Linked DNA regions of Homo sapiens. The protein of the gene in region 2 interacts with the protein of the main gene of each other region in a pairwise test. Each region holds a gene or a part of one and is shown on either strand. Other genes may lie near its edges.

Region 1 (3,500 bases), on a different chromosome or scaffold from region 2:
CAGCCTGGGCGACAGAGCGAGACTCCGTCTCAAAAAAAAAAAAAAAAAAAAAAAAAAAAAAAAATATATATATATATATATATATATATATGTATATATATATGTATTAAAATATAAATAATTTTAATTGTGTCCAATAATCCACTGACAATGAAATCTTAACCACTGTGACCAAGACATTAACTTACAGCGTCTAGAGTGGTCCCCAGCCCATCATAGTACATCACTCCTAGCTGGTAAGTTGCTTGATGGTCTTTCTCCTTGATTTCTTCAAACTGTTCTAATGCTTCTTCATACCATCCCTAGAAGCACCCAGAAGATATTTAATTATTTTTATTATGATCTTAAAGTAATCCCAAAGGCACCAAGTGGTCAAGTGTTTGTGCCCAAGTTAAACACACAGTTAACAAGCAATGCAGCCATATCTGAACCCATGCCCCACGCTGAGGAAGCATGCTCTCAGCCATGGTGCTCTGCCATCCTCAGAGTAACAGGCGCACGATGAGCCCTCAGCAAACATTTGTTGCCAGGATAGACGAAGGTGCCATCGAAAAGTGAGAGAGTAAGTGGGATATAGGTGAACAGCTGCCCAAATAGTCAACAAATGGTGAAAGACAGTCAGTCCCTTTTCAAGTCTTCCCGGGGAAGTCAATGAAAAACCGAAACTACATTACTGAAGTTGAGGGGACAGCTGGCATAGCCATTCCTCAGTCTACTTCCCAGGCCACCCCAACAAGATGTGGAGAAAGAGGGCGATTTCCTCCTATGCTATCCAGGAACAACTAAAGCTTCCCCTAAGTACTAGATAAAAATCAAGGCTTCAATTATTATTAATATGAAGATACCTGGTAATACAAACATACTTTTTTTTGAGAGGGAGTCTCGCTCTGTGGCCCAGGCTGGAGTGCAGTGGCACGATCTCAGCTCACTGCAACCTCTGCCTCCTGGGTTCAAGCGATTCTCTGCCTCAGCCTCCCAAGTAGCTGGGATTACAGATGTGTGCCACCATGCCCAGCTACTTTTTTTTTTTTTTTTTTTTTTGTATTTTTAGTACAGATGGGGTGTAGCCATGTTGGCCAGGCTGGTCTACAACTCCTGACCTCAGGTGATCCACCTGCCTCGGCCTCCCGAAGTACTGGGATTACAGGCGTGAGCCACCGCACCCGGCCTGATAATATAATTTGTATTATTAAATATTTTGAGCAAAAATATAAAAATTTGATTTTTAATCTATAGTGTGAAATGGATTTTATACTAAAACGACTCCCATAAATGGCTTTCATGACATGGATTTTATGAAGAAAAGTCAGGTAGCTCCTCAAGCTGGCAGCACTGTATCCTACTGTTAAAGCCACAGCCATAGTCGATGTAATTGGACAGAATTTCCCTAGTATAACACAGTAAGAAACTCTACATGAAATTTTTGTCTGAGGATCTAACAACAGAATTACAGGAAATGAAAACGAATAAACAAAAAATGATACCTCTTCAAAATATAGTTGACCTCGTAGGAAATATGCCAGAGTGTCTCCTTTCAGTATTCTTTCCTTCAAGAGCTGCAATGCCTTATCCACCAAATTAGCATGGGTGTAATCTGATTTTAAAAAGGTAAGGAATTCCATCAACCACACAATATGAATTTTCTCTCTTGAAGTAATGAATCATATAAAATCCATCTAACACTGTTGACATTCTTGCTTTCTAGTGCTCATTCCTACAACTGGCCTCCTTAGCTCAAGGAAGAAATATTACCTGAAAAAACGTCATGGTCACAGGCCCTAACACTGTGCCTTGTGTAATAAAGCAATACTGGCCGGGCGCGGTGGCTCACGCCTGTAAATCTCAGCACTCTGGGAGGCCGAGGCGGGTGGATCACCTGAGTTTGGGAGTTCAAGACTAGCCTGACCAACATGGAGAAACCCCGTCTCTACTAAAAATGCAAAATTAGCAGGGCGTGGTGGTGCATGCCTATAATCCCAGCTACTCGGGAGACTCAGGCAGGAGAATAGCTTGACCCCAGGAGGCGGAGGCTGCGGTGAGCCAAGATTGCATCACTGCACTCAAGCCTGGGCAACAAGAGCGAAACTCCATCTCAAAACAACAACAACAACAACAAACAATACTTGTTGATTGGTTTCACACTAACCCTGCTCATGGCCAAGTAGAGCCCTAACAGTGCAGGGCTGGGTATAAGTCTATGCATTGGTTTGTCTTCAATGGGCAAAGCTCTCTGGAGAGGTGAGTTAAATTCTTAATTTGAGCCTTAATGAGAGTTCCTCTAACCAAATGAGCAACCCATCCCTAATATAACATTTTTAAGACTTTAGGGAAGATAAGGTATTTAAATAATAATTGCAAGTCAAGCCTGGCATTGTTCTCTTTAACAAACGTGACATCTGCTTTCTGTTTTCTAGAAGCATGTCCTTAAGTCCTGAGAGTAAAATCAAGACCTAACTATCTGTGAGACCTCACTGACGATTTGCTACCAGATAAATGAGCAATTTCACAGATTCTTGCGGGAAAACTCAAAAGGACTAATGATTAACCACTTCCTTGAAATCAATAAAACACATTATTTCTTGTCTCGTTTGCTCTAGCATGCAAAATGAACTGTTAAAGTGTTTTCCAAGGGAAGCTTAAATATCAGGATTTGTACCAGTCTTTTCCTTTTTCCACTGGAAAAATTTTTGGTTTTTAGCAGCATACTGAGATACAGAGGCATAAAAGGGGTTCTTGGGCAACTTTTCACTGGTCAACTTCATCCTTTTTCTGCAATGTGTATTCTATAAGCAAGAAGAAAAAATAAGTGGTAGAAATTTCTTCCTCCAGCGAAGTGCAAAGAGAGACTCTATTCCCACCAGGTGCTCATTAGGAAAAGCATCCTTCTCTCATCGCCTAGATAGAACACCAACCACCAACTCCAGGACGTGAACATTCTTTACTAGGACACCAAGACCCTCCTCCCTAGCTGAGAGACAGCCATTCTCCATGTCATTTTCCACAGCATCGCATTCACCATGAGACCTGTTTGCACGTCCTGTCTGGCTATGGGTTTATACATCAAGATGGGTCAAGTCACCCAGCACAAGTGTTGCCACTTAGTGGGACCTGGTGACACTGCCCACAGTCAGAGCTCTTCTGCACTGGTACCTTCTCTGCCCTTGTAACTGACACTCATCGGACGAATCCATTTCAAATTAAAGCACTTGTCTATTTTACCTGGGAATACACTTTATTTTAGCTGTTGTTGAGTTTTATCTTCCTGTCTGTATTGGATTGCCATGTTATAAGATGGATCACAGTTGAATGGTAAATCAGTGTCTTCATATAAAATGTAGCGGTCACCTCATTTGGGGTGAAGGAGTCCAGGTTGGCCTAGGCTGAGGGTAGTGAGACAGCAAACTCAGTTGTTGCTACACTTTTGTATTTACTCCTTGGCATTCCACTGTTATGGCTTACTTTCACCAATCAGAAACAAGCTTCCAGCAAAGGTTCCTGAT
Region 2 (3,500 bases):
TTTTTTTTTTTTGAGACGGAGTTTCACTCTCTTGTCCAGCCTGGAGTCTAGTGGCACAATCTCAGCCCACTGCAACCTTCACCTCCTGGGCTCAAGTGATTCTCCTGCCTCAGCCTCCTGAGTAGCTGGGATTACAGGCATGTACCACCACACTCGGCTAATTTTTCTATTTTTAGTAAAGTCGGGGTTTCACCATGTTGGCCAGGCTAGTCTCAAACTCCTGACCTCAGGAGATTCGCTGGCCTCTGCCTCCCCAAGTGCTGGGATTATAGGCACGAGCCACCATGCCTTGCAGACAGCTAGATTTTCTAATGTGGATGATAGGAGCATGAAAGAGGAATCGGGCATGAGCCCAAGGTTTTTGATCTTAGCAGCTGTAACCATGCACACTGCTTCAGCTGAGATGACGTTGGTATTGACATAATATTCACTGTGGATATCCAGAGGGTTGTTTTGGCCATATGAAGAATCAGAGACCAATAAGTGGTGGCATCAAATCGATAACTAGACATACTGGATGGGGTATCTGGGAGGGTGTTGATACTGGAGACATCCAATATATGAAAGCTAATGAGTGAACTATGATTAGTTATGGGTCCATTTAGGAGGACATGCTTCAGATTATGGTGGTAAATCTTTTCAGGGGGCAGAAAGGTGTGATTACAGGCTGAGGACTGGATCTCTTACTTACGTCCTCAATTGATGTTATTGGGCTTCCTAAACACCTGAGAGGGTGTGAGTGACCATCATAACAGGACATTTAATACAGTAGAGTTTGGAAGGGGACATAGACATCCAAAGAGATAATAGAGAAGAGATAGATGCATGCAGAAGCACAGGAGTAATTCAGGGAAGATGACACTTAGGCCTGAGTTGGTGCCAAAGTTGTAACTTTTTTGTTTTTTTTTTTTTTTCAGATGGAGTTTCGCTCTTGTTGCCCAAGCTGGAGTGCAATGGTGCCATCTCGGCTCACTGCAACCTCCACCTCCTGGGTTCAAGCAATTCTCCTGCCTCAGCCTCCCAAGTAGCTAGTATTACAGGCACCTGCCACCACAGCAGGCTAATTTTTGTATTTTCGGTAGAGACAGGGTTTCACCATGCTGACCAGGCTAGTCTTGAACTCCTGACCGGGTGATCTGCCTGCCTCGGCCTCAAAGTGCTGGAATTGCAGGCGTGAGCCACTGTGCCTGGCCAGTTGTAACTATTTATCACTGTCTGGACTCATAAACATTTTGAGATGACTTTGGGAGTGCCTGGGGAGTTTCATTCAGCCTGGTGCATATGGGCAGTGAAAAATATGCTCATCTGTGATAGTAGATGTGGTTTGGTTCACAAATCCAGGGGCTGGGCTTTAAACGGCATTAGGTGGACAGAGGAGGGTTGCTACAGCTGAGGTCTCAGCTGGTGCAGCACAAAAGTGAAATAGGGCCATGGCTATCTGAAGCCATATGTGGTTCTGTGTGGCTATGGAGTCATTCCAGGAGACGTTCACAGGATGATTTGGGATTACCACTGCTATTGTAAACCATGGAAATTCTGTGTTAATATTGGATGCTATTTGTATTTGTCAAGCATAGTCTGGATGCTTATCCACATTTTGGTATAAGGCCAGAATTGAAGGCCCAATATGATGTGTCACTTTGACATCTTGTGAAAGTGGGACAACCTTAAAAGGTGTGAGTACAAATCTCATTCCCACTCTGCTCTCTTGAATAATGTATCCTAGCCTAACAGCCCGTTTTATCAAGGTGATAAGGCAGGGTTCCAGGTTGTTATATTTTGTGGTGGGTTTCAATTCCATCCCTACCAGCAGAGTTATGGAAACAAACCATTGCATATTCCCAAGGGAATCATGGGCCGTTATACCCTCTTCATCTTGTGAAATAATTTTATTTGTAGGCGCTGGGTGTGGTGGCTCACCCCTATAATCTCCTCACTTTCAGAGGCCAAGGCTGGTGGATCACTTGAGACCAGAAATTCAAGACCAGCCTGGCCAACATGGTGAAACCCCGTCTCTACTAAAAAAAAAAAATACAGGCCAGGCATGGTGGCTCAAGCCTGGAATCCCAGCACTTTGGGATGCTGAGGTGGGTGGATCAGGAAGTATGGAGATCGAGACCATCCTGGCTAACACAGTGAAACCCCGTCTCTACTAAAAAAAAAAAAATACAAAAAATTAGCCAGCTGTGGTGGTGGGCACCTGTAGTCCCAGCTACTCGGGAGGCTGAGGCAGGAGAATGGCCTGAACCTGGGAGGCAGAGCTTGCACTGAGCTGAGATCATGCTACTGCCCTCCAGCCTGGGGGACACAGCAAGACTCCGTCTCAAAAAAAAAAAATTAGCCGAGTGTAGTGGTACATGGCTGTAATCCCAGCTACTTGGGAGGCTGAGGCACAAGAATCACTTGAACCTGGGAGGCGGAGGCTGCAGTGAGCCATGATTGTGTTCCTGCACTCCAGCCTGGGTGGCAGAGCTAGACTATGTCTCAAAAAAATCCCCCAAAAATAAACTTTTACTTCTGGGGATGCCAGAGAGGGGCTGAAGGTTGGGGAAACTCTGGTGGGGGTGGCCATGGGCATGTGTCTGTACAGTATAAAGAATGATATATATTTAATGAGAGCGAGGTTGTCTGATGGACTCAGGCAGCTGCCTTGGGCTTTACGTGACCTTGGATATCGCTGTTCAGAAGGGGGTGTGGGCTTTTTTTGTTTTTTTTTTTTTTGAGATGGTGTCTCGCTCTGTTGGCCAGGGTGGAGTGCAGTGGTGTGATCTCGGCTCACTACAAACCCCGCCTCCTGGGTTCACGCCATTCTCCGGCCTCAGCCTCCCGAGTAGCTGGGACTACAGGTGCCCACCACCATGCCCGGCTAATTTTTTGTATTTTTAGTAGAGACAGGGTTTCACCATGTTAACCAGCATAGTCTCTATCCCCTGACTGCAAGATCTGCCCGAATCAGTGTCCCAAAGTGCTGGGATTACAGGCGTGAGCCACCGCACCCAGCCCAGAAGGGAGTGGACCTTTTTATGTCAGGACCTCAGCATGGATACCTATTTGTCCACCTACTTCTTGTTGCTGATGGCATTTGACCAGCAGGCCCATGAAGAGACAAAGGCACCAGTGGATGTGGTTTCAACTCCGTGTTGGGGACCTTGGGAGGAGGATGGGCAAGGGTGGGTGTGTGGGAGAGGTGGGTTGTGGTACCTCAGCAGAGGGGCTGCTTGTGGTTTCATCTGTCACTATCATAGCAGGGCACTGTGACCTTTGAAGATGTGGCTGTGAACTTTTCCCAGGAGGAGTGGTGTCTTCTTAGTGAGGCTCAGAGGTGCTTGTACCGTGATGTGATGCTAGAGAACCTGGCTCTCATATCCTCGCTGGGTAAGTTGCTCACGCTCACCTTTGTGACCTGAGCTAGTGTTACTGTTCCCCTGTTTTTCATTGACAGGACTGTCTTTCTCACCTAAGGAGCCTGGACACAGGTTCCTTCTGCACTTCTCTGTGTA

What was found. Proteins that work in one complex are often made in the same cells at the same time.
Region 1: the proteins of ZNF587 (region 2) and LRP2BP interact in binary tests that used the Homo sapiens proteins (3 or more experiments, as listed by UniProt).

Annotation. Positions count from the first base shown.
Region 1 is NC_000004.12:185,375,425-185,378,924, forward strand, and holds part of LRP2BP (LRP2-binding protein), read right to left. Parts: exon of another isoform or gene 2,784-3,500; 5' UTR 2,763-2,783; coding exon 2,657-2,762; exon of another isoform or gene 2,415-2,656; intron 2,239-2,414; exon of another isoform or gene 1,706-2,238; intron 1,595-1,705; coding exon 1,485-1,594; intron 303-1,484; coding exon 189-302; intron 1-188. UniProt on the Homo sapiens protein: May act as an adapter that regulates LRP2 function.
Region 2 is NC_000019.10:57,852,859-57,856,358, forward strand, and holds part of ZNF587 (zinc finger protein 587), read left to right. Parts: intron 1-3,245; coding exon 3,246-3,375; intron 3,376-3,500. UniProt on the Homo sapiens protein: May be involved in transcriptional regulation.